Linked DNA regions of Homo sapiens: all the other regions are linked to region 1. Evidence: fine-mapped expression QTL. A gene starts in region 1. Each other region holds a variant in brackets. All regions are shown on one strand. Distances are between the middles of the regions. Region 1 holds the start of PIGB (phosphatidylinositol glycan anchor biosynthesis class B). Region 2 overlaps RSL24D1 (ribosomal L24 domain containing 1). Region 3 overlaps RAB27A (RAB27A, member RAS oncogene family).

Evidence for each region. PIP is the estimated chance that this variant, and not a neighbour inherited with it, causes the effect.
Region 2: its variant is the best candidate, but not a certain one, in a credible set for the expression of PIGB in cerebellar hemisphere (GTEx, PIP 0.71).
Region 3: its variant is the best candidate, but not a certain one, in a credible set for the expression of PIGB in whole blood (INTERVAL, PIP 0.89).

The regions. Positions count from the first base shown.
Region 1 is chr15:55,317,148-55,321,391 of GRCh38, reverse strand. It overlaps PIGB (phosphatidylinositol glycan anchor biosynthesis class B), which reads right to left and starts at 2,170. Exons shown (of 12, transcript NM_004855.5): 1 at 1,979-2,170; 2 at 982-1,117; 3 at 2-119. The coding sequence starts at 2,141. PIGBOS1 (PIGB opposite strand 1) reads left to right here and starts at 2,269. Exons shown (of 2, transcript NM_001308421.2): 1 at 2,269-2,528; 2 at 3,525-4,208. The coding sequence starts at 3,600. The coding sequence ends at 3,764. It also overlaps a transcript of RAB27A not described here. RefSeq lists enhancers at 1,911-1,990, 2,061-2,140, 2,201-2,290, 2,341-2,410.
Region 2 is chr15:55,184,172-55,188,415 of GRCh38, reverse strand. It overlaps RSL24D1 (ribosomal L24 domain containing 1), which reads left to right. Exons shown (of 6, transcript NM_016304.3): 4 at 2,991-3,054. Among named protein-coding and RNA genes, the nearest start is that of RSL24D1, 11 kb to the left of the region's middle. The variant G/T (reference allele first, on the strand shown) is at 1,935.
Region 3 is chr15:55,275,951-55,280,194 of GRCh38, reverse strand. All of the region lies in intron 1 of RAB27A (RAB27A, member RAS oncogene family), which reads left to right. Among named protein-coding and RNA genes, the nearest start is that of RAB27A, 12 kb to the left of the region's middle. RefSeq lists an enhancer at 210-504. The variant AT/T (reference allele first, on the strand shown) is at 1,712.

The DNA of each region.
Region 1 (4,244 bases):
CCAGCAACTGAACACTATCTTTCCCTAAAAGATGAAGAATCTTGTAAATGCTTGCAAAGATTAAGGGATAAGTGTAACTCCTCAGTCTCTCTGTCCATTCCCAAGTCAAATAACCATAATTAGTAACATTAAGGAGTAAATGTCCAATAATATTGAAACCTATTTCCGTGTTTTTTTTTTTTTTAAGATGGGGTCTCACTCTCTTGCCCAGGCTGGTCTCAAACTTGGGCTCAAGTGGTCCTGCCTCTACAGGTGCACACCACTTCACCTGGCAAAATCTATTTTCATTTCCATTTATAAAACAATATTTTATTTTGTGGCAGTCTTAAAACAGCATTTTATACTGGATATTTGCATTAAAAATTCAATTGGCCAACTAAACTCTTAACTTCTTCAAGGCAGTAATGTGTTTTTTACTTTCTCTGTATCCTCCAAGTGCTAAGTACTGTGGGAATGTATGCTAACGGCTGTGTCAAGTATATTAACATAAAAGAAAGATACAGGAGAAATATTTGTATAAAATAATGGTATACTTTGATGAGTTAAAATTATTTGGGGAAAATACGGAAAACTGAAAATATGTATAGTAGTCCCCCCTTATCTGTGGTTTCTCTTTCCATGTTTCAGTTGCCCAGAGTCAACCACTGTCTGAAAATATGAAGATATTTTGAGAGAGACCACATAAAAGTTCACATAACTTTTATTATAGTATTGTGTTATACTTGTTATATTTTAATACTGTTAATCTCTTACTGTACCTAATTTGTATAAACTTTATCATAAGCGTGTGTGTATTTTTTACATATATAAAAACAATATATATAGAGTTTGGTACTGTCTACAGTTTCAAGCATCCACTAGGGATTTTGGAAACTATCTACTGAAGACGAGGGAGCAAGGGGGACTACTCTAAAAGAAACTGAGCACAATTTCCAAGATGAATACACACTCATAGTCTGGAAAAGAAACCACAAAGGATATTTGAAAACCATGTGATGTGAAACTTCAAGAGACTGCCAGTATTCATCTGGAACAAAACTTGTCTGCACTAAAAAGCAGTTTAATATTCGTAAAGCTATGGTAAACAAGAGCAGATAAATATTTTCTCCAAGAAGATCTGAAAAACAGAACAAAACAGGTAATAGTGGCACAAAAGTCAGGCAGTTCCACTTGCAAAACTTAAAATCTGCTGCTCTGGTTGGCTCCTTGTAAGGCACAGTAGTGACCTCTGGTCCCTCCACACCATTCTTAAAGCCAACTTGGTTGGTTATACAAGCACCACAGCGTCATCACTGGGTGACTGCCACTCTTTTAGTTTAACCAACTTTTCTTGCAACTTATTGTGTAAAGATAATATTAAAATAAATACAAAAAAAAAAGAGTGGGTTAACTAAGGCCTTAGGCTAATTAATTAGGTCATACTATGTGTGTATCTAATGAAAGAAACCAGCTAACAAATTACTAATTTGGGAAGCAGCCCTTTGTATATGTGCAATATAAAATGGTCCTCTGTACATATATATTGATGATTACTATTATATATGCCAGGCACTGTGTTAATTTCTTCACATGCATCTCACTTAATCCTCCAAACAATATTATGGGATAGGTATTATTAGCCCCATTTTACAGACGAGCAAATTGAGGCCCAGAAATTAAACTGCCTTGTCCAAATAAAGTTGTAAATTACTTATCAGGATTCAAACCCGGGTCTGTGTGATGTCTCCAAAGTCCTGCTCTTGACCACAAATGGACAGCCTGTCGGCCAAATACAGAGTATTTTTTAAAAAATTGAATTTAGTTGCCAACATTTAAAAATCAGAATTTATATTAAAATCTGTGTTTCCAGCATTTCCCAGCATTTCAAAACTCAAGATCTGGCAACACAGAGCTCAACGGGCAACTGGCTGGTAATGAAATGGAGGGGGTTCCTTTTAGATGGGGGTAGGAGCTCTCCAGACAGTGTCCCCTCACTCACCCCCGCGGCGCCTGGCGCTCTTCTCCTGGGTGTTGAAGTACAAGGTAGACTTTCTCTTTCGCAGCTTTATCTTGCCGTGGGAGCGGTTCTGGAGACCATGCAAAGTGAGGCTGGCATCTCCGCCCCCCGGCTCCATTCCGCACTTGCTTAGGGGCCTCCTCATCCCTGGCCGCCACCTTCCTAAGGCGGAAGAAAGCTGCAGTAGCGCGCTGCTCGTCCATCCATTAAGTTTGGCCTTTGAGAGCAGTCGTCGCTCGCAAGCCCGGAAGTAACCGGGAACGGGCAACTTCGTAGCTCCCACCCGACGTGGTGGCCTCCTTGCGGTTTCCTTTCGCCGTTTCCGAACCGAGGGATTGCTACTCGCCTTTGGCTTGGCGGTCTCTGTGCTCGGGGGTCCGAAAACTGCTGGAAGGCCCCCGGTCTCTGGAGGGGAGCAGGCGGTAGCGAGTTTAGTGACGTGGAGCAGGCGCAGAACAGTCGGAGGTACCTGAGTGGTTATTAAAAACGGTAACGGTAATTGTAGACGTCAGTGTTGGTGTTAACATTTCAGGTTCGTTGCTCTCACAAAAAATGCCTGTTCAACGAGGTAGGCAGGGTAGGGATGATTTAGCTTGTTGTACAGATGTGGAAACAGGCCGAATGGTTCCTATTTTTTTTGTTGTTGTTGCTGTTGTTAGGTTTTTTTTTTGTTTTTGTTTTTGTTTTTTTTTTTGAGACGGAGTTTCGCTCTTGTAGTCCAGGCTGGAGTGCAGTGGCGCAATCTGGGCTCACTGCAACTTCTGCCTCCCGGGTTCCAGTGATTTTCCTGCCTCAGCTCCCAAGTAGCTGGGACTACAGGCGCGCCACCACGCCTGGCCAATTTTTGTGTTTTTTTGTAGAGACGGGGTTTCACCATATTGGCCTGGCTGGTCTGGAACTCCTGACCTCGTGATCCGCCCGCCTCGGCCTCCCAAAGTGTTGGGATTACAGGCGTGAGCCACCGCGTGCGGCCCACTCCTCTTGTTAAAAGTAAAACCAGGCCGGGCGCGGTGGCTCACGCCTGTATTCCCAGTACTTTGGGAGGCCAAGACGGGCGGATCAGGAGGTCAGAGGATCGAGACCATCCTGGCTAACACGGTGAAACCCCGTCTCTACAAAAAATACAAAAAATTAGCCGGGTGTGGTGACACGCGCCTGTAGTCCCAGCTTCTCGGGAGGCTGAGGTAGGAGAATGGCGTTAACCGAGGAGGCGGAGCTTGCAGTGAGCCGAGATTGCGCCATTGCACTCCAGCCTGGGCGACAGAGCGAGACTCCGTCTCAAAAAAAAAAAAAAAAAGAAAAAGTATGCATTTAAAACCATTGAGAACATTCTGTAATAGAAAAGGTTTTAGTTTTGTCTTATACCCTTCCCTAATTCACTTCCTGTACTCCTTATGTATTTATATTCTTGTTTTAATTAGTAACATATTATAAAAATATTGTTCACTCCAGTGCAAAGTAGTGACATAACATCTTTTAAAAGGACATTGTACTAAGTGATGGCTTTGCTTTCCATTTTTGTATGCAGATTTGAAGAGATTTCCTGGGTGTGGAGTGTGACTTTCCAAAACCAGCTTTTCCTTGAGCTGTATTTGTTGCAGCAATGTTTAGGAGATTGACTTTTGCACAACTGCTTTTTGCCACTGTCCTTGGAATTGCTGGAGGAGTATATATTTTTCAACCAGTATTTGAACAGTATGCCAAAGATCAGAAGGAATTAAAAGAAAAGATGCAGTTGGTACAAGAATCAGAAGAGAAGAAAAGTTAATACTACATGGAGTTAGGCCTGGCGCAGTGGCTCACGCCTGTAATCCCAGCACTTTGGGAGGCCGAGGCGGGTGGATCAGGTGGTCAGGAGTTCAAGACCAGCCTGACCAACATGGTGAAACCCTGTCTCTACTGAAAATACAAAAATCAGCCAGGCTTGGTGGCATGCGCCTGTAATCCCAGCTACTTGGGAGGCTGAGGCAGGAGCATCACTTGAACCTGGGAGGCAGAGGTGGCAGTGAGTCAAGATCACGCTGCTGCACTCCAGCCTGGGTGACAGAGCGAGACTCCATCTAAAAAAACAAAAAGCAAAAAAACCCACAAATACCTCATGGAGATGAACTGTAATAATTGCTTAAAGTTCCATTTAATTATGTTAACTCTAATCTAGCAAAAACATAGATGTACTTAAAAATAAATCATGGATAATGATTTTTTAACCTAACACTGTTAATTTTAATGTTTATTGTATATTTGTCAT
Region 2 (4,244 bases), 130 kb after region 1:
TATTGATTTCTTTTTTCCTGCACTGATTCTGCTTTCCTTTTTACTGGGATCCTAAAAATAGATTTTTCTGAGAAGATCTGCTAAGTGTACAGTATGAGTGCTAGGTAAATAGTATGAGAGTCTTTGGAATTTAAGATTGTTTCATGATATTTTATACAATTAAGAAAAGTTGTTTTCAGTAGTGTTCCAGAACAATATATTATTCTTCTAAGAGATTCATTGATTCTCCACACCCCTCGTATTTCAGTATCATTTGGTCTATAAACTAATCTATTGACAAGAGTTGTATATTCATTGCTTACATTATCAAATTGTGTGAGGATATGGATTAAACAACCTTTGTTAAGGTACTGATGTCTGTAGAAACAGTAGTATGTTAGAATTTCAAAAATACCGGGAAAAATAGTTTGCACTTTGTCCCTCATGGCTGTCTGTGTTGCAGGTGAATTGTTAATATCTGTCAGATTTTTTTTTATTTTTTATTTTAACTTTTTACATATTTTTGTTGAACTTTTTTTTAATCTTAATAGCTTTTGGGGTACAAGTGGTTTTTTTGGTTACATGGATTAATTGTAGATTGTCAGAATCTGAGATTTTAGTGCATCCATCACCTGAGTAGTGTACATTGTACCCAATCTATAGTTTTTACCCCTTACCCCACCCCACTCCCCCTTCTGAGTCCCATAGTCCATTATACCACTCTGTATGCCTTTGCGTGCCCATAGCTTAGCCCCTGCTTACAAGTGAGAACATACAGTGTTAGCTTTTCTATTCCTGGGTTACTTCATTTAGAATAGTGGCCTCCAGTTCCATCCAAGTTGCTGTAAAAGACATTATTTCATTCCTTTTTTTGGGTGAGAACTATTCCATCATGTATAAATACCACATTTTCTTTACCCACTTGTTGGTCGATGGGCACTTAGGTTGGTTCCATATCTTTGCAGTTGTGAATTGTACAGTTAGATGCTTCTTAGGTTCAAAATATTTCAGTATTCTGGAATATTTGGAAATACAGCATATTATTCTTTGGAAGGGATTTTCCTGCCACTTGTGTTTATTTCCCTTCTAAATAAGTTTAAAGTGTGGAAATGCTTTTGAGTACTAGAACTTGTACTTATTTTTGCTGAAAGACAAAGAAAAAAAGTTATATATCCAGCATATTATTAATTCTGAGCTACAGCATATGCAGATTTATAGTTGACATTTTCTTAGAGTTATTTATACAAACATTGCTTTAATACTAGAGGTCTCAAAGATTGTCCTGGTGGTTTTTGTTAAAATGTAGATTCAGATATAGTAGGTTTGTGTGGGGCCTGAAATCCTTCATTTCTAACAAGCTCCCAAATGATGCCACTGTTACTGGTCCCAGGCTACATTTTAAAAGTTTTTATTTTGACCTAATTTCAGATTACAGAAAAGTTGCACGAGTAGAGTTCTCTGATATCCTTCATCCAGACTCCCTGAATGTTAACATTTTGTTAAATTAATTTTTTCTCTTTGTCTCTCTTCTTTCTCCCTTTCTCCCTTTAGTGTATATTTTTCTGAACTGTTTAAGCATGCAAAATACTTCTTGGTCCCTAGTTTAATATGTATTTCCAGAAATAAGAGCATTCTCACATAACCACACTGCAATTATTAAAATCAAGAAATTAACATTGATAGACTATTATTACCTAATCTTAGTCCTATTCATATTTCTCCAATTGTCCCAGTAATATCCTTTATAGCAAAATTTGTAAGAATAGTACATGTCATGTCTCTTTAATCTCTTGTAATCTGGAACATTTCCTGAGTTTGTCCTTATATTTCATGATATTGACAGTTTAGAACAATATGGGCCAGGCGTTTGGTATAAAATTTCTTAACTGGATTGTTTGGTGTTTCCTTCAGATTAGGTTTGGATAATGCACATTTGGCAAGAGCACCAGAGATTT[G/T]ATGCTGAGTTTTTTCAGTGTGTTTTGTCAGGAGACACAAGCTGTCCATTAGTTCCATTACTAGCAGTGTTAACTTTGATCATTAGGTTAAGGTGGTGTCTGCCAGGTTTTTCCACTGAAGAGTTACTGTTTTACTCTTTTTAATTAATAAGTATACTTTTGAGAGATACTTTAAGACTATATAAATATCTTATTATTCTTTAGATCTACAGACTACACTTTAAAGAGCTAGACTAGATCAGAAGTGTCTGAGCTACTGAGCCAGTCTAAATTGCGTTGTGCTGTAAATGTGAAATGAATGCTGGATTTTGAAGACTTAATATGAAAACAAGGATAAAATGTTTCACTAGTAATTTTATATAGATTGCATGTTGAGTGACAGTATTTTGGAAATTTGGGTTAAATAAAATGTATCATTAAATTTCCTCCTGTTCGTTTTTACTTTAAAAAATACGGCTACTAGAAAATTTAAAATTTCATATGTGGTTTGTCTTTCATTGGATAGTACTGATAGAAATTTTAGAGCATAGTTGGACTCAGCCCCCTTTTAGCCAACACTCCTGTAGGCATTTTCTAAAACAGTTGGATTTTTGTGGTTGAGAACTTAGTAGTATTGATTGTTTGGTTCATTCTGCTAATATCATGTGCTGACCATATCCCAGGCACTTTTAAGTGTTCATAACCAGAAAGATGCTGTCTTTATTCATGGAAATTACAAGTTAAGAATGGGATTAGTTGTCAGTAGTCCAAGTTCTCTTTATAGTAAAATTTGAAAAGCATTGGATTGGTTTAAAGTGGAAGGAAAATTTAACAGCAGTAGAGACTTTTGTCAGATAAAAATTAGAGAAATGATACTTGTGAAAGAGAATGTTGAGAGTCATGATGGCCAGGAGTATACACCTTCTTCAGCTTTTTGAGTAGGGATTGTTTTTGTAATGATTTTTTTCATGTAAATTCATTTCTAAATCAGAATAATAAAGAAGTGTTTGTTAATGCAGTTGTTGATCATACCGCTTGAATGTGCATACATTTGCTAACTCATGAATTTTTTTGTAGTTGATGCGATGAAGAGAGTTGAAGAAATCAAACAGAAGCGCCAAGCTAAATTTATAATGAACAGGTATGAATATTTGTATGGAGTAACTTTTGGAAAATAATTACTAGTAGATATTTAGAGGCATTAGTATTTTTTAAAAAAATTTTTTATTTTGACATAACTTCAGACTTACCAAAAACTTCAAGGAATAATATGAAGAACTCTTGTATATTCTGCTAGCATTTTACATTTACTTTATCCTTGTCTCAATGTATTGAAGACATAATGCTTTTTCCTTCTAAGTATACTTAAGTGTGTGTAACCTAAAAATAAGAACATTCTCTTAAATAAACACAGTATGGTTATCTATCAGTCAGGAAATTAACATTGATGTAATACTATTATATAATCTATAAACCTTATTTAGACCTCACCAGTTATTCTGATTACGTCCATAGCAACACAAAGTCCTTCATATTTCTTCAGGCTCCTTTAATCTGGACAGTTTCTCATCTTTCTTTTACGTGACATTGATAGTTTTGAAGACTATAGGTCAAGTTATTGTATAGAACGTTCTTCAATTTGGGTTTGTCTGATACCTTCCTCATTAGATTTTGGCTAGGCACCTTTGGCAGGGATGTCTCAGAAATGATGGCGTATCCTTCTCATGCATCATATCGGGAAGCACATGATGTCACCTTGCTGGTGATGTTAACTTTGATCACTTGATTAAGGTGATGTCTGTCAGGTTTCTCCACTGGAAGATTACTATTTTGTTTTCCTTATAATCAGTACGTATTTTGGGGGAGATACATAGAGATTCAGTAAAAAGCCTATTACTCCTCAAACTTGTACCTACTGGTTTTGGTTTTCATTAGAGTCTTGCCTGAATCAGTTACTACTATTGTTGTGATTGTTGCCAAATGGTGGTTTTTCTAATTCCATCATTTCTTCTACATTTTTTAGTTGATTTTCTCATGTAAGAAAGAGCTTTCCCTTTTCCATCAATTTCAAGATTTATTCCTTTATTCATATTACATCTGTGTGTATTCATGGATTCTTATGGTATACATTGGGTTATAATTCTTTATTGTCATTATTTATTTTGAAGTTCTAAGTGGCCCATATTTGGCCTGTGGGAGTTCCTTCAGGCAGACTGTCATGTCATTTTGACAATTCTCCTCATTCTTTGAGTGCATTCATGTTTTATAGCTAACAAGATGTTTCCTCTTCCCCAGCTTGGAATCAACTATTTTTTTCAGAGCAGGACCATT
Region 3 (4,244 bases), 41 kb after region 1:
GAGGCAGCACAGCCTCGGAAATTGTTGGTTTCTTAGTTTTTTTCTCTATTTACATGAAACTAACCAGTCTAGTGTCAAACAGGAAATATACACAGCATAGTTTTTCTTTTTTTATTGCAAAGTGTCAGATTAGGACCAGTAACATCAGCACCACCTGGGAACATAGAAATGCAGATTTTCAGCCCCACTCCAGACCTACTGAATCTGAAACTCTGGTGGGGCCTAGAGTCTGTGTTTTAAAACCATCTAGGTGACTCTGATGCACCCCGAAGCTTGAGAACCACTGTCTACAAGTACATTTCATGACTCAATCGCTGGTTAAGGCTGCTGACCTCGGCCTTTGTAGTTGATGAGTCATTAACATTGAGGCCTTAACTTTCCTGGCCATCTGCTTTCCTTGGTGATATTTATTCAAAACAGGTGACATTTATTCAAAAACTATTGTTGTAAGTCTTCATTAGAATGCCATACACAAGCGAGGGAATGGACTTTTATTGAGCACCTGCTGTATGTGAGACACTGTGTGTGAGGCTATTACTTATTTCATTTGATTCTCACAACCACCTTGCTAGGTCAGTATTATTATCCCTATTTTACAGATTTGGTATCTGAGGCTAGTAGAAGTTAAATATGATCTTGATGTACAGGCTATTTGCCTAACTGTAGTTGTACATTTTTGCCATCTGTTGTCTCCCTAGAACAGTGGCTTACAAACTTGATTGTGTATAACCAGAAAGCCCCTGGGAAGCTTGATATAAATGCAGATTCCCTAGGCCTCCCTTGCAGAGATCCTAATTCAGAGGCCTGAATGGGACCCAGAATTTTGGATTTTCATCACATATCCTAGGTGATTCTGCTGCCAGTCCTGGATCCATTTTCACCTGCCCTAATTGGTTGACCAGTTGCCCCTCAAGGCTTCTCTGAGGTTCTGTGTTGTCCTGTGTTTTGTGGTCACAGGCCTCGGACACTGGGTGGAGAAGAAATAGAAGAGTATGGGAGGACAGGCCATGGGGGCCTTTATTAAGAGTCTTATCTGCCTGGCTCTTTCTGCTGTCTCTACTGCTTCTTAGAGGGTTCCTAGGCCATATTTTGGCTTTGAGTAACTTGTGATTCTTTCCATTATCTATCCCAAAGTTTGGAACTGTTCTTTTAGCAACTGTGCCCTTTTGTCTGTGGGGTGCATAGATGTGAGCAATTTCCTTCAGGCTGTAATTAATAAATGTGGAGTAGGGAGTTGCTTCAGCTTTTGAGTTCAGAAATGGTATTTCATCCGTTTGGTGATACAAGCCCTTATTTTTCAGGGATAGAATTGACATAATTAGTGAATGACTTGGCTTAGAACTTAGAACTTAGAAATGCAGATTTTTCAGCCCCATGTCAACGTACTGAATTCACTAAATAATTAGAAGACTGGGCCAGGTGCGGTGGCTCACGCCTGTAATCCCAGCACTTTGGGAGGCTGAGGCGGGCAGATCACGAGGTCAGGAGATCGAGACCATCCTGGCTAACATGGTGAAACCCTGTCTCTACTAAAAATACAAAAAATTAGCCAGACGTGGTGGCGGGCGCCTATAGTCCCAGCTACTTGGGAGGCTGAGGCAGGCGAATGGCGTGAACCCAGGAGGTGGAGCTTGCAGTGAGCTGAGATCGTGCCACTGCACTCCAGCCTGGGTGGCAGAGTGAGACTCCCTCTCAAAAAAAAAAAAAAAAA[AT/T]AATAATGATTAGAAGACTGAATAATCTGGTGCTATTATGAAGGAAAAAAGTGAAATGGAAATTAAAAACAAATTTCAGATATGATGCCTCTTCTTTGTGAGGTGGCAGGCTGATTTCTGTTCACAAGTTTAGAAGCGGCTACTGACATAAATACCCCAGGGCTCCCATAGTGTAAAAGAGTCATTTCTATGAAAATATAGTGGAAACCTGCCAGGCTTTTGTCCAGTAGAGAAATCAGAAATGTTGAACTATTAAATTTCTTTAATATGTTTTAGTCCCTGAAACAAAATGTGTGTTACAAAATGGGAAGGAAATTCACAAAAGCAAACATTGCAGCTTCCTGAAGTCCACTATATATAAAGCAAATTACAGGTTATGTTTCTAAGAATACTTTCTTTTTCTACCTGATACTAGGGTTGATAATAACAATATGCAAGTGAGTATAATAGCTACAGCTACCATATGTGTCAAGAGTTATACAAACATTTTCTCATTTAATCCTCAACAATCTTTCAAAGCAGATATTATCTTTCATTTTACAGATGATGAAACAGGTTGAAGAAGATGAAGTAACTTGCCCAATGCTGGGATATGGTTTCCCGGGATGCATGACTTTCAGTGCTATAACTCAGTCCCCACTAAACTGGGATGGTTGGTCCCACTGAGTGTCACCCAGCCTACTGACCCATAGTTGATAGTAAGGCCAAACGGTTCTGAGTTGGACAAATGGTTAATGTATTGAAAATTGCCAACCTGCATCACAGAGCAACTTTCAGAACATTTTTTGGTGCCCATTTTTCTTCATTTTACACACAGTTCTAATAAGCTTGGTTATTTGGTTTCCAGGTGCCTTGTCAATTAAAAACAGTGCATCGGAAGGGGTAGGGGTTGTCCCAGGAAGGCACACTGATTACTGTGGTGAGGGATAGCTGCCTGACAGCAAAGGTGAGGGGAGGGAGAAGGAAATATAAATTAACAAAAGACACGAAATAAATACAGCAGTCAGGAGCCATTTATTATGGAGACAAACAGGCTGGTCTCGAACTCCTGGCCTCAAGTGACCTGCCCGCCTCTGCCTCCCAAAGTTCTGGGATTACAAGTATGAGCCATCGTGCCCTGCCAAATTTACCAAAGTTATACGTGGACGTTGTTTTACAAGGGCTGTTACAAAAAACCAGTAGACGCCTCTCCCCCAGCCCATTTCCTGCTCTCCAGAGTTAACCACTGAAGTCTTGCAGTAGTTTATACATCTAGTCTCTAAATGACACATTTATATTTCTGTGGTCAGTTTTTCAGTTTTAGTCATTATCTATTGATACTTTATTACAGAAGTAGAGAATTTAGCTCATTGCTCCATCCACCCCTGCCACAAGTATACCATTTTCATCTCCTCTTTCTTACCTGAGTTTGTTCATTTGTTCCTACGTTTGTTTGTTCATTCTTTCCTTCCCCTACTTAACAATTTATTTTTAAAAAAACTACTTTATGGGAGGTATTATTGACAGATAAAAAGTCTGTACATATTTAATGTATACATCTTGATGAATTTGGGGATAATTATTCACCCATGAAACCATCGCCACCATCAAGGCCATAAATGTATCCATCACCTCCCAAGGTTTTATCCTGCCTGTTTTATTATTATTGCATTTTTGTGTGTGTGTGGTAAGAACAATTAACACTGGATCTATCTTCTTAGCAGATTTTCAGTATATAATACAGTATTATTAGCTATAGACACTATACTGTATAATAGCTTTTCAGAACTTATTTATTTTGCATAACTGAAACTTGTTCTCTTTAACTATGACCTTCCCATTTCCCCCTCCTCCCAGTCCCTGGCAACCATCATTCTGCTCTCTGCTTCTGGGAGTTTGAGTTACTTTTTTTTAAATTAAAATTTTTTCTTTTAGAAACAAGATCTTACTCCGCTGCCCGGGCTGGAGTGCAGTGACGTGATCATAGCTCACTGCAGCCTTGAAGTCATAGGCTCAAGCAATTGTCGCGCCTCAGCCTCTTGAGTAGCTGGGGCTACAGGAGTGGCCACCATGCTTGGAGAGTTTGACATTTTAGATTCTATATATTAAATATATGGGAGATCACATAGTATTTTTCTTTATGTGTCTGGCTTATTTAACTTAGTATAATATCTTCCACCTATCTGTATTGTCACAGGTGGCAGGATTTATTTCTTTTTTAAGGCTGAATACTTTTTCATTGTATGTATAGACCACATTTTCTTCATTCATTCATTGTCAGTGGACATTGAGGTTGTTTCTAAGTCTTGGCTATTGTGAATAATGCTGCAGTGAACATGGGAGTACAGATATCACTTAGAAATCCTGATTTCAATTCTTTCAGATGTATTATACCCAGAAGTAGGATTGCCAAATCCTATGGTATTCTATTTAAAAAATTTTTGAAAACATTTTTTTAAAGAAGCTCCATAATGTTTTCCATAGTGGCTGTACCAATTTGTATTCCCACCAACAGCGTACAAGGTTCCCTTTTCTCCACATCCTTGCCAACAC